Linked DNA regions of Homo sapiens: all the other regions are reported to be linked to region 3. The links are microRNA targets in miRTarBase. Many come from high-throughput screens and were not tested one by one. Region 3 holds a microRNA gene; each other region holds the end of a gene's coding sequence. Distances are between the middles of the regions.

The links. The annotated mature microRNA hsa-miR-1827 reads UGAGGCAGUAGAUUGAAU and lies in region 3 at 1,541-1,558, opposite strand. An mRNA with a match to its seed (bases 2 to 7 or 8) in the 3' UTR can be bound and repressed. Matches are read on the target gene's strand: a 7mer-m8 pairs with bases 2 to 8, a 7mer-A1 pairs with bases 2 to 7 and ends in A, and an 8mer does both.
Region 1: the mRNA of ZSCAN29 is a reported target of hsa-miR-1827. Seed matches in the 3' UTR shown: 8mer at 2,107-2,114, 7mer-m8 at 1,974-1,980 and 8mer at 1,816-1,823.
Region 2: the mRNA of MRPL51 is a reported target of hsa-miR-1827. Seed matches in the 3' UTR shown: 7mer-m8 at 531-537.
Region 4: miRTarBase lists VPS35 as a target of hsa-miR-1827. The part of its 3' UTR that is shown has no 7-base or 8-base seed match.
Region 5: miRTarBase lists HOXD8 as a target of hsa-miR-1827. Seed matches in the 3' UTR shown: 7mer-A1 at 2,479-2,485.
Region 6: the mRNA of PNO1 is a reported target of hsa-miR-1827. Seed matches in the 3' UTR shown: 7mer-m8 at 2,217-2,223.
Region 7: miRTarBase lists ZFAND4 as a target of hsa-miR-1827. The part of its 3' UTR that is shown has no 7-base or 8-base seed match.

What each region holds. Positions count from the first base shown.
Region 1 is chr15:43,358,429-43,361,428 of GRCh38, forward strand. It overlaps ZSCAN29 (zinc finger and SCAN domain containing 29), which reads right to left. Exons shown (of 6, transcript NM_001372080.1): 6 at 1-3,000. The coding sequence ends at 2,645. Among named protein-coding and RNA genes, the nearest start is that of ZSCAN29, 11 kb to the right of the region's middle.
Region 2 is chr12:6,489,557-6,492,644 of GRCh38, reverse strand. It overlaps MRPL51 (mitochondrial ribosomal protein L51), which reads left to right. Exons shown (of 3, transcript NM_016497.4): 3 at 178-759. The coding sequence ends at 374. Among named protein-coding and RNA genes, the nearest start is that of MRPL51, 2.2 kb to the left of the region's middle.
Region 3 is chr12:100,188,392-100,191,489 of GRCh38, reverse strand. MIR1827 (microRNA 1827) reads right to left here and starts at 1,606; the gene lies at 1,541-1,606.
Region 4 is chr16:46,657,747-46,660,831 of GRCh38, reverse strand. It overlaps VPS35 (VPS35 retromer complex component), which reads left to right. Exons shown (of 17, transcript NM_018206.6): 17 at 181-3,085. The coding sequence ends at 360. Among named protein-coding and RNA genes, the nearest start is that of VPS35, 30 kb to the left of the region's middle.
Region 5 is chr2:176,131,280-176,134,377 of GRCh38, reverse strand. It overlaps HOXD8 (homeobox D8), which reads right to left. Exons shown (of 2, transcript NM_019558.4): 2 at 1,683-3,061. The coding sequence ends at 2,766. Among named protein-coding and RNA genes, the nearest start is that of HOXD8, 3.1 kb to the right of the region's middle.
Region 6 is chr2:68,174,469-68,177,566 of GRCh38, reverse strand. PNO1 (partner of NOB1 homolog) reads right to left here. Exons shown (of 7, transcript NM_020143.4): 7 at 1,329-2,832. The coding sequence ends at 2,765. Among named protein-coding and RNA genes, the nearest start is that of PNO1, 18 kb to the right of the region's middle. RefSeq lists an enhancer at 1,780-1,949.
Region 7 is chr10:45,613,953-45,617,039 of GRCh38, forward strand. It overlaps ZFAND4 (zinc finger AN1-type containing 4), which reads right to left. Exons shown (of 10, transcript NM_174890.4): 10 at 1,548-2,619. The coding sequence ends at 2,484. Among named protein-coding and RNA genes, the nearest start is that of ZFAND4, 57 kb to the right of the region's middle.

The DNA.
Region 1 (3,000 bases), not on the chromosome of region 3:
CTGGTGTTTCTTGTAGCTTCCTGTCTGCTTAGGCAACATAACAGAAGTACCATCTTCCCTTAATTCCTAATAAATATTAGATTTTTTTGTACTAAGATTCAACAGCAGAATCCTAATTAATCTCTAACACAACAAGCTATGAATTATAGAATACTATATCTTCCTACTGCTCTCCCTGATCTTATTCCAGCCACAGAATTCTAATTGAATGTGAAACGGCTACTTATCCCAGTCCTTGGCCATCTGGCCATGTTTATCTTTCTTCTCACCTGCTCATCAAAATATCTTCATCAGATACTACGATTTCTGACCTTTATCTCCCATAGGAGCTAGTCCCCTAAAACTGCTTATTCTTTCAGTGGCAGTCAGCTGTTTCCTTATCAATAGTTATAGCGTAGTACCTGATTTACTATAGATGATGGTTCTACCACCTCATGGTCTGCTCCTAACACCCATGTTTCAGCTAAGGTGATTCTCTCTGCCTGCTGCACAGCCCATATCATACTATTCCTCAAGTTCTCATGCTACTCCAAGCTTTATCTGGCCTTCCTTACAGTCTATCCTTTGCCCTTTGTTCCATCTACACAAAACACCTTGCTCCCCCTTTTTCCCATTCCTCAACCCACCCAGCACTCAATTTTGCAACTAGTTATGGAAAGTTCTTCCTATCATAATTTAACCAGTAACCTTCCCTCCTTTGACCACTTCCTGCTTCATGAAGCCTTCCTGAATAAAGAGAAAAAATACCTCCCAGATTTTTGTTAAAGCAAACTAATGCATTGGACCACAACATTTATGCATAGTGTTGCTACCTAGCTTTCTAGATTTCTCTAAAACTGCCGCAACTATGCATGTGCACTTGTTTGTCCATGTCAGTGTCATCTGCTTTAGATTGTAAGGACAAGGAGAGGACCTGTTGACCTTGTGCTATACAGGGCTCATCATACTATGAGCATATGGGCAGTTAATACTATTGTATTATAAAGATGAGTAATTATATTTGCATTTAAAGAACTGCTTTTAATTGTATTCAGTTGAATGTGTATGTCTAGATTGGCAGCTCCACTGGCCAAAGATAATCCATCTTCCCTGCCATTAGGGTAAAGGGCCTGTTCGCACACAGTAGTCCATTTTCCCAATACACGGGAATGTGGCAGTGGCTTCTGCTTATTGCAGGTAAGTGCCCATGGAGGGCATAACACTATACCAGGTGTGTGGAATATGGACGAGTTCCTATTGGCAGCTTTAACTGCTCTACCTGTCACCACATGCAGCTGCGTTGCTCTGTGGAACTTCTGGACCACAAGAGACAGACGAAATTCAGATGAGACTGGACAGAAAGAAAACCAACCTAAATCCTGTAAATGTATTATTCTATTCCAACCCTTCTTCTAGGACTCAGAAGAAACTAAGAAATCCAGGGTTCACACTTCAGTATAAGGTTTTCATTGTTTCTGCATAAGAACACCTGTTCTTGACAAGATGATTCATAGGGCAGAACCAAGATGGACATTAAACTCTCCTTCTTTAAGGTAAATGAAGAGGGTGCCTGACAAATATGTCATTTTGAGCACAGGTTTAAGTGAGCAGGAAGAGTCATTCATTTTAGCATTTCCATTATTGTATAAAGAAGAGCTGGGCCGGGTGCAGTGGCTCACACCTGTAATCCCAGCACTTTGGGAGACCTAGGCAGGCAGATCATGAGGTCAATTCAAAACCAGCCTGGCCAACATGGTGAAACCCCATCTCTACTAAAAATGCAAAATTTAGCCTGGTATGGTGGCAGGTGGCTGTAATCCCAGCTACTCAGGAGGCTGAGGCAGGAAAATTGTTTGAACCCAGAAGGCAGAGGTTGCAGTGAGCTGAGATCATGCCACTGCACTCCAGCCTGGACGACAGAGTGAGACTCCATCTCGAAAAAAAAAAGCCCGGCGCAGTGGCTCATGCCTGTAATCCCAGCACTTTGGGAGGCCGAGGCAGGCAGATCACCTGAGGTCGGGAGTTTGAGACCAGCCTGCCCAACATGGAGAAACCCCATCTCTACTAAAAATATAAAATTAGCTGGGCATGGTGGCGCATGCTTGTAATTCCAGCCACTTGGGAGGCTGAGGCAGGAGAATCACTTGAACCCGGGAAGCAGAGGTTGCAGTGAGCTGAGATCGTGCCATTGCACTCCAGCCTGGGCAACAAGAGCAAAACTCCGTCTCCAAAAAAAAAAAAAAGAGCTAGACCCACCTAATGGGCAAAGTCTCATAACTTCTTCTCGAAATGTAATGGGTTTTTCCTGTCAAAATGCAGCTGAATGACAGAATGAGTAAAGAAGGATGCTTATCAAATTCATAGGATCTATTACCTTGTCCTCTGTGCTTATATTAAGGGAACACCATAGGCACTGAGAGGGAAAAGATGTTATCCATCAATTCAGATGCAGGCAAAGAGAGGGACTGAAATCTTCCTTTCATTCTTTAGACTGCCTTGGGGATTTGAGTCTAGATCAGGAAAAACAAGGAACAAACAGTGGCATAAATCCTAAAGTGAATTTCCTAAGCTAACTGGACACAGAATAGTAGATGAATCTCACTATTGGAAGACTTTCTAAACAATACATTTATTGAGCCTCTTTCCGTTATATATCCTCAGGGGCTTACTTGGGAGCTGACTGTGTCAGAAGCTTTTCCCGTGCATGGATTTCTCCGTGCTTATTAAGGGCAGAGCTTTTACTGAAGCACTTACCACAGTCATGACACCCATAGGGTTTCTCTCCTGTGTGGGTTCTATGATGTGCACGTAAGTCAGAACTCTTACTGAAACTCTTTCCACAGTCAGGACACACATGGGGTCTCTCTCCTGTGTGTATCCTCCGATGTGCACTAAAATGAGAACTGTTATTGAAGCTTTTTCCACACTCTTCACATTGATAGGGCTTTTCTCCTGTGTGGGTTCTCTGGTGAATGATAAGGCTTGAGCTCTGATTGAAGCATTTCCCACACTCACCACATT
Region 2 (3,088 bases), 94 Mb from region 3:
AGCATCAGAATTTTAACCCCAAGCAGTCTGGCTCCAGAGTCTGTGCTATTGTTCTGTACTGTAATGTTCCTTGTCTATAGGTGCTGCTCAGCAAGATGCAACCGTGGGTTGAAAGCTTAGCTGGTGTAGGATGAGTTCTCTTGTCTTGGATCTAATGTGTTCTCTCACATTACACAGGAAACTTTGAAAAGCACCCCAAAGAACTGATCAGGGGGCCCATATGGCTTCGAGGTTGGAAAGGGAATGAATTGCAACGTTGTATCCGAAAGAGGAAAATGGTTGGAAGTAGAATGTTCGCTGATGACCTGCACAACCTTAATAAACGCATCCGCTATCTCTACAAACACTTTAACCGACATGGGAAGTTTCGATAGAAGAGAAAGCTGAGAACTTCGGAAAAGGCTCATCTGTCACCCTGGAGAAGGGAAACTGTACTTTTCCCTGTGAGGAAACGGCTTTGTATTTTCTCTGTAATAAAATGGGGCTTCTTTGGAATTTGATAGCCACATACTTTTGTTTTCCTCTAGATGCTGCCTCTACTCATGTAGACTATGAAGTCTTGACTCATCCTAGATCTTAGGATCTTAGGTTTGGGCTTCACACCACTTGCCTTTTACAGTCTAGCTATACCTAATTCCTTTAAAAAGAAAAGTTGGTGAGAATGTTATTGGCGCTTTTTGACATAATGCTGTTATGTTAATAGTGTTTCTAAAGAGCCTTCCACACTGAAATGAAATATAAGAGAAAAATGGAGTCATACTTCTGTACTACTCTCATAAAATATTTATTAGGCATATTCTCTGAGTAGGAACTATAGGAAAAACAAAAAAGTGTGAGGTGTCCTTTCCATTTAAATATGAAACATTAAGTACCATATGAATGGTAGAGATGGCGGATACTAAGCCTGACTGGTCATCAGTTTTCTGGGTGTTTTAACATTTCAAAAGCCTAGTCCTAACCCCTAAAGATTGATCAGTAGAGCTGAGTTGAGTCTAGGGCATCTATGTGTTTTGTTCTTTTTTAATAATAATTTTTAAGAATTACAGCTGGGCAGAATGGTGCCCACATGTAATCCCAGCATTTTGGGAGGCTGAGGTGGGAGGATTGCTTGGAGACAGGAATTTGAGACTGGTCTGGGCGACATGGTGAAACTCCGTCTCTACTAAAAATAAAGTGGCTGGGTGCGGTGGCTCCTGCCTGTAATCCCAGCACCTTGGGAGGCGGAGGGGGGCGGACCACGAGCTCAGGAGATCGAGACTATCCTGGCTAACACAGCCCTGTCTCTACTGAAAATACAAAAACAAACAAACAAAAAAATTAGCCAGGAGTGGTGGCGGACACCTGTAGTCCCAGCTACTCAGGTGTCTGAGGCAGGAGAATCACTTGAACCTGGGAGGTGGAGCTTGCAGTGAGCCGAGATCGTGCCACTGCACTCCAGCCTGAGCAACAGAGCAAGACTCTGTCTCAAAAAAAAAAAAAAAACAACTTAGCTGGGCATGGTTCTGCATGCCTGTAGTTCCAGCTACTCATGGTTCTGCGTGCCTGCAGTCCCAGCTACACAAGAGGCTGAGGTGGGAAGATCACCTGAGCCCAGGAGTTTGAGGCTGCAGTGAGCTGAGATCATGCCACTGCATTCCAGCCTGAGCAACTGGGGTGAGACTGTCTCAAAAAAAAAAAAAAAAAAAAAGTGAAGTTAGGGCTGGGTGCAGTGGCTCACACCTGTAAGCCCAACACTTTGGGAGGCCAAGGCATGAGGATTGCTTGAAGCCAGGAGTTCAAGACCAGCCTGGGCAACATAGCAAGACCCCATCTCTATATTTTAAAAAACAAAAACTCCATAAAAGTGAAGTTAGATTAATAAATACTTGTTGCGGGGCATGGTGGTTGGAGCACACTTATAATCCCAGCTACTCTGCAGGCTGAGGTGGGAGGATCCTTTGAAACCAGGAGTTGGAGGCCAGCCTTAGGAACATAGCAAGACCCCATCTTCAATAAAAATAAAAAGCACTTGTTAAATTACAAGTGGGTTTTGGATAAATGGATTGATGGGTATATATGAAAACATGATCCTGGGTCTTACGGAAATGTTTAGGAGAGTCAGTTTTCAGAGGGGTGGCTGGAAGGAGCTATGCATAAGAATGGAGAAGTTGATGTGAAATGTGAGTGGCTGTATACTTTACATGATTTGGTGGTGCTAGAGTGGAGAAAATAAAATATTTGGGACTCTGCTAAGTGCAAGGTGCCCTGAAGAAGATATCTACATATCCTGGTAGAGTATCTGATTGTTAGGGAAGAGGAAATTAATAGGTCAATAGGCATTTATAGAATATTTCCTGATTCAAAGATACAAAAGGTTTTGTTTTCAAGGACAGAACAATCTTGTTTGTGGTATGAAACAGTATATAACGTTTTCTTTGAATAAATATTGAATTATTATGTGCAAAGATATTTGGAGGAACAAAAATCACCAAGGTAGGGTTGGTTCCTACCTCTAAGTAGTCTTCATTCTACTTAAAAGATGTCCGGTGGCTCACACCTGTAATCCCAGCACTTTGGAAGGCCTAGGTGGGCGGATCACGAGGTCAGGAGATCAAGACCATCCTGGCCAACATGGTGAAACCTCGTCTGTACTAAAAATACAAAAAAATTAGCCAGGTATAGTGGTGTGTGCCTGTAATCCCAGCTACTCGGGAGGCTGAGGCAGGAGAATCGCTTGAATCCGGGAGACAGAGAGGTTGCAGTGAGCTGAGATTGCACCATGCACTTCAGCCTGGGCAACAGAGGGAGACTCTGTCTTTAAAAAAAGAAAAAAAAAAAAAAAAAGACGTCTGAAGGATGTAAAGTTACAAGATGGTGGACCAATGTGATACTCTGCAGAATGTGCAAATGGTCCACATTTTTTAGATTACATCATGACAGAGAACAGAATTAACATAGCCCTGATGAAAGACCATGACTGTATACTGTTGTTCATCCCCTCCGTGGTGGACTGCTTCTGACCAACATGCTTTAGAAAAGAATGTTGGTTGGGCATGCTGGCTCAGGCCTGTAATCCCAGCACTTTGGGGGGCCAAGGTGGGCGGATCAC
Region 3 (3,098 bases):
GCCTAAAGTGCTCAGTTCAGTAAACATCCTGAGCACTCGGTTGTGTGAGACCATCTGAGGGGCAAGGAGCTGAGAGGATCCCTAGGGAGACTGTGGCTTTCATGATTGTCCAGTAGGCAGTAGCTCACCAGCCAGCACAGGGGGCCCTCAGTCGGCTAGAGATTCAGGATGGTTTTGCTCCCTGATCTAGTCTTTGAGCATCTGCTGTTGTGTCCTACTAGAGCATCACCTCCTAGGAGGAGATTTTGTCAGTATAGTTCACTACTGTGCCTTTCATGCTTAGAGGATGCCAGATGCTTATTGCCTAACCCAAGCTTTAAGCCCTCATATCCTCTTGGAGTGTGTGTGTGTGTGTGTGTGTGTGTGTGTGTGTGTGTGTGTGTAAACCTCTCCCTCTCTGGATCAGTGAGAGTGTTGTTAAGGTTACAAATAAGAAATGCCTAGCACACTGCCTGACTGATTGTAAGTGCTCTGTAAATGGTGGCTACACACCCCAGGCCTGCTGGCATTGCTGCCACTGTTGCCCCTCTGACTCTTTTGAGCCAGTAGGTGAAGTGTGTCTCCACTCCCTTGGGTGGAGTGGACAGGGTGCCTTTCTCAAGGGCAGTTGTGAGGGCTGAGCTGGCCGGGAAGGTGTGCTCTTCCTTCCAGGCCTCCCTCCCACAGGTCTTCTGCGGGCCCTGCAGTTGGCCCTGCTCTGACTCTTAGTTTTTGCTTCATTCTTGACCCACTCAGGCCTGGTAGAAAGAGTTATCTGTGAGCACGGCGGGGGTTCCCAAGAATCTATTATGGTTTTAGTGTCTAGGACTCTAAAGTCGTGACAGTGACTCGTCTCTTCAGCCCCTGTTTGCAGCAGAGGGCGCAAACCAGCTCAAAGCAGGCACACAGATGTTTGGTGAATTGGGAGAAGTTGTTCCTGTCCAGGAGCCATAACGTGGTATTTGTAATTTTCCTCGTTGGAAGGCATGGCTCTGTCTGCCAAGAAAGACAAGGCATGTAGTCACCATGCTGCTGCCTCACAGTGACATTTTTAAAGCCAGACCTTCTAGAGAAGGAAGCAGGAAGGAAGGCGACTTGCTTTTGGGCCCGTGGAGTTTCAGCAGTTGCGGGAAGTTGGCTGGGCTGTGTGTGTGTGTTGCTGCATTGGTGCCTGGTCTTCTTTGATAGCTCCCAGGAGCATGAGGTTGTGCTTAGCAGTTGTGTCCCATCAGTCCTCTTGGTCTCGATCAGTTCACACGCTCCCAGGGCCCCACGTATCAGAAGGGCCGCCGTTGCATAACACTGTCCATGGAAATCACTGCAGTCATGAGAGGAGCAGTGGCTTTGGCCTGTAGACTCAGAGACCTTTCACCATGACTCAGCATGGGAAGCGGAGGCTCAGAGAACTTCAGCCTGTCTTGTCCAGGGCCACCAAGGGAGCAACTGAGCCATGTCTTCTGTTATATTTAGAGTTGGGGGCTGAGGAGGGGCGCCTATCTGCATTCTCTGCCGGTCCTGGGTCCACCTGTTGCAGGGACCCAATTCTAAGGGACCTGAATCAATTCAATCTACTGCCTCAGCCTTTCAGAGGCTTCTCATTGCTTTAGGCTGAAGGCTGTGCTGCTGAACATGGCCTTCAGGGTCCCATGGGGTCTGACTCCTGTCATTTCCTCTGTTGCAGGCCCACTTGACTTCTTGCAGTTCTTCAGATGTATTGTCTTCCCGACAGGCCCTGCCTCAGGCTGTCCCTTTGCAGGGCGGGCTGTCTCTTCTCTGGTTACTTCTGTTCGTTCTTCAGAGAAGCCTTCCCTGTTCCTCCCATTCCTCACTGCCGTGCTTCTCCTTCACAGCCCTTACCACTGCCTGTAGTTACTGTATTTCTTTGTGTACTCATCTGTGGTCTAGCTCCCTTGCAAGGCTGGGAGCTCCATGGGGCAGGGACCCTGTCTGTCTTGTCTCTGGTTTACCCCAGTGCCTCACACGGCCTGGTACATAGTGGGTGTCCAGCATCGACTTGAGGAAGAGTGATGAGGGAAGGCTCCAGACCCTTTCAGGGGCAGAGTTGCTCTACTGCTCCTGCTCCTGCTGCTTGGGGCTCATCATCCTCTGCCCTGCACACCCGTGGCAGGGGGGGTCTGCCCACACCCACCTGCCTTTGTGCCACACTCCCTTCCCTAGCAGGACGATGGTTCCTCTCAGCACTGTCCTTTTTGTTTGGCCTCCTGGTGGGAGGTGAAGCCAGCTGGACTTCCTGGGTCGAGTGGGGACTTGGAGAACTTTTCTGTCTAGCTAGAGGATTGTAAACACACCAGTCAGCGCTGTGTCTAGCTAAAGGATTGTAAATGCACCAATCAGCACTCTGTAAAAACGCACCAATCAGTGCTCTGTGTCCAGCTAAAGGATTGTAAACACACCAATCAGTACTCTGTAAAATGGATCAATCAGCACTCTGTAAAATGGACCAATCAGCGCTCTGTAAAATGGACCAATGAGCAGGATGTGGGCAGGGACAAATGAGGGAATAAAAGCTGGCCACCCCACCCAGCAGCGGCAACCTGCTCGGGTCCCCTTCCATGCTGTGGAACCTTTGTTCTTTCGCTCTTCATCATAAATCTTACTGCTGCTCACTCTTTGGGTCCGTGCCACCTTTAAGAGCTGCAACACTCACCGCAAAGGTCTGCAGCTTCATTCTTGAAGTTGGCGAGACTAAGAACCCACCAGAAGGAACCAATTCTGGACACTGGGAAGGATGTTACCTTCGGACACAGTGTTGTTCACTTTTTTGACTGGGAACCGACAGCAGATAATACACCTTTGTATGTAAATGTATACTGTCAGTATGTACATAAAACTGAAAGAAAAATGTCACTGCTACATATAGTAAAGCTAAGTACTATTTTCTCTTTTAATACTAAAAAAAATGCTTGTCCCCTCAAAATTGACTTCTTATCTTCTTAATTTGATATCCTGGCCCACAGTGGGTCACCACTCAAGTTTAGAGAAGCCCATTCTGCAGGACTGCCTGGCTGTGCAGCTGGTGCTCCCTCCCTCCCTGCTGCATTTTCCTCTCCCCCTCACTGTGGGATGGGGCTGAGGTTGTTCCCTTGGGTAAGAGGCTG
Region 4 (3,085 bases), not on the chromosome of region 3:
TTTTTTTTTTTGATAGTCAGTAATTGTTCAAACTAGGAATTGTATCCCCATCTTTCTTTTTTCATAATTACTCAGGTAATTGATGAGTGTAACAGAAGCTCCTCAAAACAGTTTTATTAAATTGCCTTTCATTTTTTGTGGTACGTGCTTGATCATGAATTTGTACATATTCTTTTGTAGGTAACAATTCAGGTTTTAAACCAGCTTATCCAAAAGATTCGAGAAGACCTCCCGAATCTTGAATCCAGTGAAGAAACAGAGCAGATTAACAAACATTTTCATAACACACTGGAGCATTTGCGCTTGCGGCGGGAATCACCAGAATCCGAGGGGCCAATTTATGAAGGTCTCATCCTTTAAAAAGGAAATAGCTCACCATACTCCTTTCCATGTACATCCAGTGAGGGTTTTATTACGCTAGGTTTCCCTTCCATAGATTGTGCCTTTCAGAAATGCTGAGGTAGGTTTCCCATTTCTTACCTGTGATGTGTTTTACCCAGCACCTCCGGACACTCACCTTCAGGACCTTAATAAAATTATTCACTTGGTAAGTGTTCAAGTCTTTCTGATCACCCCAAGTAGCATGACTGATCTGCAATTTAAAATTCCTGTGATCTGTAAAAAAAAAAAAAAAAAAAAACACAAAACCCACAAGCACTTATCTTGGCTACTAATGAAGCTCTCCTTTTTTTTGTTTGTTTGTTTGCTTCATTGTTGATTGTGTATTTTCTTCATTCCTGGGGAGTACTAACCCAAAAGCGTCTGTCTCTTGTTTTCTAGTCCAGTTTGAGATTAATTTAGAAGAAAGGAATACTGTATGTGAAATTCATCTTGGGCTTTCCCCTAAATTGCAAGATAAGGCCATGTGTAAGATTTTCCCTAAAACTAGAATATATTAATGCATGTTTGAGAATTTTAAAGCACCATGGTCAAAACCAGAAGCTATATTTTGCATATTTGGACTCAGCCATCCATTAAGAACCCATGTTGTCCTCTGGACATATTTATCAATATAATTGGGTTTTAAATAGTATAAAAGAAAACTTGTGATCTATATAATTTATGTATCACCTTCATTGTAAATTTAGCAGGAAATGCATCACAATTATGATTTTTTTTTTTGCACCAGTGAAACAATAAAGATGCTATTAACAATTTTGGAGCTTTTTTTCCCCTTTCATACTATCTTTAATTGATAAAAAGTACTAGTAGTATGGCTATAGAGTTTAATAGTCATTCTCATATATTCACAGAGCTCACTTAACTCTAGTTTTAAGCACTTGTTGAACAAGGCAGCATCTACTCTTTTAGTCATTTATACCCCTTTTCTTTCCTCAACTTTACCCTGCTTTTCCCAAGGCATGATGAATTCACATAAACCCCCCAAAGGCTCACCACCGATACTAGTTACCTACTATATAATAAACCATCCCAAAACTTACTGTCTTAAAACAGCAAACATTTATCTCACAGGTCTCTGGATCAGGAATTTGGGAGCAGCTTAGCTGGTGGTTCTGGCAAAGAGTGTGGTGTAAGGTTGCAAACAAGATACTGGTTGGGGCTGCAGTCATCTGATGCTTTGACTGGGGCTGACTTTTCTGCTCACTGACCTGGCTGTTAGGCAGAGGCCCCAGTTCCTCTTCTTGAGGGCAGAGGCCCCAGTTCCTCTCCTTGAGGGCAGAGGCCTAAGTTCCTTTCCTTGAGGGCAGAGGCCCCAGTTCCTCTCCTTGACGGCCCTTCCATAGAGTGTCCTCACAGCATGGTGGCTGGCTTTCCCCTGAGTATGAAAGCAAGAAGGAAACCACAGTGCCTTTCAGTGGCCTCCCTGTGGAAGTGACATGCTCATTTTTGCCTTATTCTGTAAGTGGGGAGTCACTAAGTCTAGCCTATATTCAAGGGTAAGGAGAATTAAGCTCCACCTCTTAAAGGGAAAATTTATAGACATTTTCAAATGACTACATCACTTAACCCCTCACCATCTGCCCTCCCATTGCTAGCACTTGATGACTAGCCCTTGCTGGGCTTTACATGAACAGATGTTTCCCAAAGTTATAAAATTAGTACCACTAAAATGTATCAAATGTTAAGCCATTCTGTGGTATGTCATAGTCCAGCAAACCCTTTCTGTTCTTTGTAGGTGTTAGTTTACCCCGTATAAACCTGATTATGGCTTGACATGTCCATATTATTTACATGTTTTGTGAAATACAACTGGAATAGTAGAAAAGACATGAGTCAAGAACACTTGAGTTGGAGAGCTTGGTTTGCAAGTAAGGTAATGTCAGTACAGTGTGTAAATTATCTCTTATTTTCTGGGTTGAGGTAAACCCAATTTTAAAAATAATAAACCAACAAAAGTAAATAAAAGTGAAACAAAAGCACTGCTAGTATCCTTAACTTACAGATTTTTTTTGTTGAACAAAAACTGGGTACCAGATATAGTTAGGCACTGAATCTAAAGGTGAAGAAGATCATAGCCTCTAGCTTCAAGAACGTTAGTCTGCTGTGAAGACAGACCTGTAGTTACAGAAGATGGTAAGGGTTTGTGCAGGAGAGCAGTGAAGAAGAGCTTTGAGGGATTGGGGATGGGGAAGTTCTGCAGAGGGTTGTATGAATTCTCATGGAACATCAAGTCCAATAGTTTATTTAGCCTTCTGAGGCCAGTGCTTTGGCCTGCAGTCCCAGGCTCCTCAGACCCATGGGCTGAAGCAAGTTATACTCTTGGCTGCCTGTAGTGAAATAGATATTTAGAAATTGACTTAGCATTTAAAACCCTTTATAGCAATTTGACAGAGTAATTTTATGTCTATTGGATGTAATAAATATTTGGCTTTGTGCTTTGTGTGTCTGCTATTCCCTGTTCTCCTTTTTTAGTAATTTTTATTGTGTCTTACAAAAAAGTACCTGTCCTTAATTGGGGTGTGGTGGGGAATCCCTCACAGGTGGATGGAAACGCTGAACCAGGGCAGGCTTGGTGCTGAATGGCATTAAATTCCAAGACTAGGGGATAGTTTGGGGGGACACATCTAGGAAGATGCTGTGACTGGATGAGAGATGCCTGCCGTGTTAGACTTTCCTACCCTCC
Region 5 (3,098 bases), not on the chromosome of region 3:
GGTTTACAGACCTCACTAGGCAGACTGGTGCAGTTCAGGGCTGAAAAGTGCTGCCTGGGATGGCAAAGCATTCTCTGAAGGTTTATGCAAATTTCTGCAGCAAAAAAGTGTTCGCTTGTTGCCTCAATGCTTGGATGTTGACACATTTGAGCCCATTAGAAGGGCATCTTGTGCGCAAGTCACTGCCAGTCTGTCTGCATGAAACACCATGATGGGGGGTGGGGATGTCTAGTCAGTGTAAGAAAGAAGGTGGCGAGTGTGTGTGATGTGTAATTCCCCCAGGTCTTTATTTGAACACAAATCTATGCTCTTTCCCAGCTACAAAAGGAAACATTTACCTACATGAATAATCAACACTCTGGGCGTGTGTGTAAGCTATGTATACATACAAATTCATAATCTAATATATACCAGCTATTGCAACAGTCTGTCTGTACATGAGGTATGAATTTACCATGGTTTAGGCGGCCAGTGGGGCCAGAAGTTACACTTTGAGACCAGCACAGAATGCTGAAGAAATGACAATTTTATCTCCTCTTCCTTCCTTGATTTCCGTACCCACCCATACACAGGGCTCCCACCTGACAGTCTTGCCAACATTATTTCAGGGTTCTAAAAGTATCTGGTGAGCATCCTTGAGCAGGAGACAGCCAGTTTTGCTAATATATAAAGAAGTCCTGAGTCCCTTAAATCCAGGGCAGCTGGATTTCAGCCAGCACTGGTCTTTGGATGGTTTACACTGGAGGCTGTTCCCCAGCCTCTTGGCCCTTGGCATCCTTACTCTGTACCAGCTGACAGCAGAGTCTTAAGCAGTGCACAGAGCAAAACATTCTCAAATCCAGCATAGGCATTTGCAGCTGTCTCTTGGAGTGCAAATGTTTAAGTTCTGGGCCACCTGTGATTTAAAATTATCTTTCCTGGCTCAGGTCAGAGAATGTCACAGCCATCACTTCTTCCCAGCATGGAAAGCCAGGTGGTGCTTTCCTTCTGACCTGGCCAGTGGCAACATTTCTGTGTCCATGAAGCCACAGGCAAACAGCCTGATAAAACCCGATGAGGTGACCCTGGCGCAAAACTATAGGATTCCATTTTTCTTATCTATGTAATAAAAGCAACTCTGGAAATAAAAATTTACCCCTTTGAAAATAAACATGGTTAGAGAAAGCAGAGAGCTCTTCGATGACTACCTAACAAAGGTGCTTTCCCTTTTTCGGGAATGTTACTTTACTTGAATTTCTCCTCTTTTCTCCCGCTCCTCTTCCCCCCACTTTCCCCTGTAAAATGGCAGCTGCAGGAGCAGCCTCCAATGGAAAATGGATATCTTGTTAATAACAGATGCCAAACCCCAGCATCAACGCCGGCTCAGTGCAATAAGCTGTGGTGTAACATGGACTTTGCGTTGTCCCCCACTGGGCCTACAACTTGAGTCCTTTAAGAGGATCAAAGCTCTCAGAGCATCTTAGCAAGATTATTTAGAGCAAGATAGACTAGCCAGTCCTCTCTGAAAAAGAAGGGGCCCCTGCGGCCTTTTTTTTTTTTTTTTTAAACAGCGCGGAATGTGTGTAACCCCACCCCTTTCTTATTAAACAGAAGCCTTGAGCGAGTCCTTTCCTTCGTGCGAGCCCAGGCGATTGTTAGTGATTCATGGAAAAGGGGTATTTGCGGCGCTCAAAGACACTAGCTCCAGAAAGAGATTCATTTATTTACTAAGGAGCTAGCGACATTCCGGAGTTGTTTACACTCAGGTTTTTCTGCGTTTCCTCTCAGGGCTTGTTTCAAATAGGTGAGGCTATCGCTTTCCTGAAGAACAGCGGAGGACGTACCAACCGACGTCTGAGATGCACACAGCAAGCTGGTTTAAAACCAGCGGCGAACAGAACAAAGGCAATACAAATAAATATGACACCTACTGAAAATAACGGAACACAGCGGCAGCCACCGCATAAAGAACTAGCGATTTCAGGCGATTACAAGGGCGGTTCAAAACGAAAGCAAGTTAAAAAATGAGACGCATTTTACAAGGCGATTTGCCAGAGTTGCCAGATTATTTAATTTGTATGGACTATAGAAAAATAATTGTCAACTTGGACATTGTCTTTAAATTCTTGTCACTGGCCCAATCTTTTTCTTAAGTTTAAGGAAGCTGCAGAGCTGGACTACAAGTTACATTCTTCAGCTAATACGTGCTTTTCTAATATTTTCCCCGAGATATTACATTTAGAAAATACGCAAAGAAACCTTTTAGGAGTAAACAAAACGCACCCGAACTATTCATTATAAAGGAAAGAATAAAAAATCCATAAATAATACATTGTAATCAAATAATATAAAGTATTCTGCAGACATAATTTTTTTTAATTAATAAACTCCTTTTAATTTACTCACCACAAATATTAAAATGTTCAAGTGCACTTGTTTAATTAATAAAGCATTTTATATGCAATTATTAAGTGCTAATCATTAGGAAGTTTACGTTGTTGAGGCAAATCACTAGCTCAGACATTAAAAACCATTATAAAAATATAGCTACAAGGTCAGTATCAAATTACCCTTCCATAGGACAGCTCAAGGACAGCTTCTATGTGATACTAGAAACTTTTTTAAACACCCAAATCCCTCTCAAAGCACAGAAAACCTCAAGAGCAGTGACATGAAGGTAGCTTGAAACACAGGTAAGGTCCTTTCCAACAAAGAAAATAGGTGGTGTCCACAGCATATGGTGATTATTAGTTTTAATAGTCTGTGGTAAATTTTAAAGGTAGAAGTTAATTTGTCAGGCCTTCGGCTCTGTCTTCCTCCAGCTCTTGGGCTTCCTTTTTCGTTTCCCCGTCCTTCACCTCCTGCCGGGAAACGGGAAATTTGTCCTTGTTGTTTTCCTTTTTCCATTTCATTCTCCTGTTCTGGAACCAGATTTTTACCTGTCTCTCGGTGAGGGCTAGGGCGTGGGAAACCTCGATTCTTCTTTTCCTGGTCAGATAGGGGTTAAAAAGAAATTCCTTTTCCAACTCTAGAGTTTGGAAGCGACTGTAGGTTTGTCTTCCTCTTCGTCTACCAGGAGCTGCTGATTAAAACAAAAAAAAAGGGGGGGGGAATAAAAG
Region 6 (3,098 bases), not on the chromosome of region 3:
TTGCATACCATTCCTAGTTCTAGGTGGCATGAGAGTTGGAGCCCAGCTCTTCAGGAGCGAGTGACTAGGAGGAAACTCCATGGGTCTCTTGCCAGCCACGAATACCTAAGAAAATGCTCTTCTCTCAGGCCCATCTCCCAGGCAATGTATCAGTGAATACATATGTAAAGTGTATGTCAGAAAATCGTACCAGATACTGAGTATCCAAAATATAAGCCTTAGGGTGGCAGGCAGACACAATAATTACAATATAGAGTGACAAGCGCCATAGAAACAGGTAAGGTTGGAAGTATTAGATTTAGTGTCTTGGCCTTAGAGAAGGGTTTAATGAAGTTATTTGACCCAGGTTAAGATCAACTGCCAGTATGATAGTCAAATTTATTACCTCTATTCCTTCTTCATACTTTCCCATCCCAAGGATTATTAATTGGGTTCCCCTAACATTTTCTCTCCCTTTCAAAAGCCCCAAGTAGTACTACTACTACTACTGGGGAACAGGAGATACAAACGCTTAACTAAGCGGCGGGCGGGGGTGGGGAGGAGGTGAAAGCAACTCCTTAAACCAACGTTCAGCATTCCAAATTTTAGCAGCTGCCAGGGAAATATATTTGCTCTCTTGTATTACTGACAGTTGTAATTACATAGGAAATCTTCAAAAGGGGAAGTAATTTGGATAATACCAAAACGTTATTTCCCTTTAATACAGATAACCCATATTTTCGCAGTTGAAATGATGCTTTTAACTTCCTGCCTCCTCCATTCCTTGAAAGTCGATTCAAAACATTTATGGTCACCTAGCAATGGTTCAATTCAGTCCAAGTGCTTGGAAAACCTGATTACAGGCATGGGCCCATTCCCCAGGAAAGTAAATGAAATAGTCACAATTTTGAATTTAACTTCCTGGGGAAAGGATGAAGGTAGGCAAGTACCTCTGAAAACCTGTACAGACTCCAGAATAAAAAAGTCCCAAATCTTTTTCAAAAAGGTATGAGTAAAAGGATCTGATATCATTGTACATATCCTTGCTCCATGCTGCTGTTGCCAAAGGATAAAAAAATAATTTGAGGTGGGACATACTCAGCAATTTCCAGTTGGATTCCCAGTTGAGTATTTTGCAAAAAAAGCATTAATGAATGAAATTTTTAAAAATATCTAAGTATATCCGATCCCACATACTGTACAAACTAGCTTAGAACAGTGGGATATGTAACTGATGATATAAAGGAAACAAGCTTAACAATTTTTCTTTTAGTTCCTACATGAACTTTCTAATACTGCCATTACTGAAGTTTACATGTTTTCATCAAGGGTTTTAGAGATGCATAAGAGAAGTATCAAAGTTAAGTTTAATAAAGTAAGTTCCTTCCATTTTGTAATGTATAAAATAATACCATTTAAACAGGCAGAAACTAGCTAATCTGCATTTATAGAGCATAGTTTTTTGGGTGGGAAAAAAGCATTCTTTCATCATTTCACCTTTACTAGAAGAAACAGACTTATGATGGTTCTTACTATTATTTTTCAACTTTAGAATTATTCATTCAGTAGAAGCTGTATTTCAAGTACCCAACCATTCTGTTTTTCACTTTCAATGTAATCTTCAAAAATTACATGAGATATTCAACATACTTTATTATAAAATAGGCTTTGTATTAGACGATTTTGCCCAACTGTAGGCTAATGTAGTGTTCGGAGCCCTTTTAAGGTAGGCTAAGCTATGATGTTTGACTTTTGGTATTTTCAACTCACAGTGGGCTTATCTGGACCTAAACCCATCATAAGTTGAGAAGCATCTGTATACCCAACATTGGTTATGTATACTTTCATTAAATACTCATTTGAAAAATAAAGCTTTCTTCACATTAACCCTGTGATGTAGGTCTTTAATTTTTGAAACTGCAAGAAACTGCAAAACAGGTTCCAAGATGAGCTCTTACTGATGTATATGGTATAATACGGTATGGCCAAAACCACTGCTTATGACCTCTCAAATATTCACACATCAAGGCCAGGCGCAGTGGCTTATGCCTGTAATCCCAGCACTTTGGGAGGCTGAGGCGGACGGATCCCTTGAGGCCAGGAGTTCAAGACCAGCCTGGTCAACATGGCGAAACCCCATCTCTACAAAAAATACAAAAAATTAGCCAGGCATGGTGGTGCATACCTGTAGTCCCAGCTACTAGGGAGGCTGAAGCAGGAGGATCACTTGAACTCAGGAGGCAGAGGCTGCAGTGAGCTGAGATTGCACCACTGCACTCTAGCCTGGGTGACAAAGTGAGACCCTGTCTGCCAACAAACAAATATTCACACATCACCCAGTATTAAGGAAGGGTCATCATTCAGAGAGGTTTTTCTGAGATAATCTATTAAATTACAATTTATAAAGAAATGTTTATAAATTTGTATGAAGTTATAAATTTATAAATATAAAAGTATAAATCCATATAGAGCTGTTTAAACAAGAAGTTTCCCTCTGAGAGGATTACAGACTATGCAATCTGCTACATGTGATTTCAGATAAATGATAAATTATACCTAATGTGTTAAGTATAACAATCAATTTTTGATATTTAAATTATCCTAAAACCTGTTGAGTGTGAATCCTCTTAAATCTTTCTTTTCTGTTTATGCTTCTGGCTGAGAATGGAAGAAGGGACGGAGGCTTCAAATGACTGAAATTGTTCAGCTGGTTTCTTGTGACCGACCACTGTAAAGTATTTTTCACCAGAGTCCAAAGGCAAGATAAAAAGTCTCTGACTTGAAATCAGAATCGATCTGCTGATCTGCTAGCCACAGCTCGAATATTGCCATAAACCTTGGAAGGAGGATTTCCTGCAAAGGGGAAAAAAAAGTATATACACAAATAAACTCACATTTATAGCGCCTACAGTTGTCCCTCAGTGTCTAAGGAAGACTGGTTTCAGGACTCCCACAGACACCACAATCCTTGGATGCTCAAGTCTCTTACATAAAAAATATGCACATTAACTACCCACATCCTCCCATATACTTTAAATCATCTCTAGATTACTTATAATACCTAATACAATGCAAATGCTATGTAAATAGTACTGTATTGTGTTTTAAAATTTGTATTA
Region 7 (3,087 bases), not on the chromosome of region 3:
AAAAAAAAAGAAAAATCACATTAAACATATATGAGAAAATGAATTCCTGTCTTTTAAAAAATAATTGTCTCCACAAGTTACACGTACACTGATAGGATTTTAAGGACACCTGAGTATTTGGATTTCCCTTTTTAGAATGATTACATTAAATATAACCTGAAAATATTCCACATAGCCAAAAGTTAAAAATTTAAAACTTTTAGTGCTGTTAAAACTAAATGCTGTTTTAAAAAAATCCAGAAACTGAACTTCGTTACATAAAATGGGCTTAGCTAAATAAAACAATATAAATGCCTTTTTTAAAAAAGCATGGGCCAGGTGCAGTGGCTCATGGCTGTAATCCCAGCGCTTTGGGAGGCCAAGGTGGGCAGATCACTTGAGGTTAGGAGTTCAAGACTGGCCTGGCTAACATGGTGAAACCTCTTCTCTACTAAAAATACAAAAATTAGCCAGGCATGGTGGTGGGCACCTGTAATCCCAGCTACTCGGGAGGCTGTGGCAGGAGAATCACATGAACCCAGGAGGTAGAGGTTGCAGTGAGCCAAGATCGCACCACTGCACCCAGCCTGGGTGACACAGCAAGACTCTATGTCAAAAAAAAAAAAAAATCACGGTTAAGTTGTCCAATGCATCAATTTATTCAACTAATGTTTAACCAGTACCTACAGGCAATCTACTCTGCTAATTACTGGAAATGCAAAGACAGATACAATGTCTCTAAAATTTGGAATGTGTCTGTGTAAGAATTTAAAGCATAAAGAAATGCCCCTCAATATAATGATATAACTTGTTGAATTAAAATAGTTCAGCTGTCAGTTATTGAAAACTAGTAAAAAGACTTAACTTTCACCACAATCTTTAGTAAAACTTAGAATGAGACTTACTTCTACTTATAGTCTTGGTTTAAAAAGCATAGCACACTACATCAAGTAGGCCCTAGGCATTCATATTTGTTTGCAGAATAAATATGCTATGGTCCATTTCTCAGCAGTCTAACTCTGTAAGGCAGTTCTTATATTTTAAGTGTCTAAAACACGTGTCTTCTTGATACAGGAGGAAATACTGAATTATTCATAACACAGATGAAAGTATTTTTCATCTACTTATATCCACCCTTCTTAAAAAGCATGCCTTCAACCCCCATTTGCATAGCTCCTCTGCTAACTTTTAGCCATTCCCTCTTATGAATGTACTGCCCTCTTTGTCTGAAGGCATCTGTCTCCATCAACATTTCATTTCTTACAGGAGCAGGGGCAGTGAGCTCTCCAGTTCATTCAGCCTTAAGTAGAGGAAGGGGCCCCTCACAGCTCCTAAGTTAGCCTTCTGGTACTCTTAGCAGAGTCTGGTACTCTTAGCAGAGTCTGCTACCCCAGGGCTGCAGAGTCTACCTGGGTTAGGTGCTAGTTGTTTACCAGGGTTCAGCATCAGTCTGAACTGAGCTTCTATACAGCAAGTGGCCACTAAGTGCCTTAGTGGTTTCTGGTTACACCTGGGGAACAGGGTCCTTAATATCCTAAAAGAATATTTTTATACTGATAGTTATTTTATCCACGTAAAATAAATCACTCATTTAATTAAATAGTTTTATAAAAGAAAAATTATTTATAAAAGAAAAACTATTATAAATAAATAATGAAATTCATAATGAAATTGAATATTTATTTGAATTTCTCCTGGTAATAGCACTCAACAAATAAGAAAAACCGAGCTGTGAGATTTTGTTTTAAATGTAGCCATATTTCAAAAGGTAAAAAGTTGGCTTCTATATTTAATGGCAAGTGGGACATCTTCTATTTTAAAATTAACATTCAAAAAGTAGTAAAATATACACTATCATGAACACGATGTGTTTTATAGAATGGATTCATGTCCGAATACTAATCTGAATGTGGAAGAAATGTATTATCTGTTAAAAACCACACTGGAAAAATGTTCTTTTTTATAAAAAGTAGCTTGAAGTAAAAAGGAACTTGCTAATAAAGCCAGTAAACTTTCACACGTGGGATTTTTAAAAAATCTCCACCCATCCCACCTCTGAAAAAAAAAGAAGGAGAAGAATAAAAGAAAGAAAAAGAAAAAACCCATATGGTCAATCTGAGTAGAGCCATTCATTACATGACTGCTCATTCTGTACAATGTGGAAGCCTGGTTATTTAGGAAATATTTCGTTTCCTAAAGTGCATCTTTTGAAGATTTGCCTAGTAAAACTGCAATATCATATACAAAACACTTAACACAAGACATGCAATAACAAAGCTAAATCATTCCAGTGTAAAGTTGTTAAAACTACTTTTAAAACTTTTGTTTCACCAAGAAATAAAGATGTAAAATACAGTAGCATTCTTGTTCTCCAACAGTATGCATTGTATGCTTTTGTTATTTGGCAAATCTTTTAGAGTCGAACAAAAATAATAGTCTAAACAACATTTCTTCTGTCATTATAATACGAATCCCGGGCAGAACAGTAAGATGTAGAGGAAGAGTTAGATTTTTGGAAGCTTTGGTGCATTAACCACAGGATTTGCCTCGTGCAAGTATCTCCTCCCTGCACTCTTGTAATCATAGGTACAGCCATGAGTTTCTGCATAACGATGAGATGCACAGAAGTTGTTTCCACATCTAAAGCACAAAAAAAGTTTACGTGAATAGTTGTATTTCTATGAAAGGCTCATCTGTCTGGGAGACAGGAGCTTGACTTCAGGTAGTCCAACAGGGGCCCTTTGGTTCTTTTTAGCAATTTCACTGCTGACATTTCCCTTCCATTCGTAAACAAGCATAAATACCCCCAAAAAGAACAAGTTAATTATCTACGAATATGACAATTTATGATAAAGAAGTCATTATTGACTGAAACAGGGTAGACCAGGGGCGGTGGCTCAAGCCTGTAATCCCAGCACTTTGGGAAGCCGAGGCGGGTGGATCTCCAGGCCATCCAGGCCAACATGATGAAAACCCATCTCTATTAAAAATACAAAAATTAGCTGGGTGTGGTGGCGTGCATCTATAGTCCAGCTACTCGGGAGGCTGAGGCAGGAGAATCGCTTGAACCCAGGAGGTGGAGGTTGCAGTGAGCCAAGATCGTGCCAC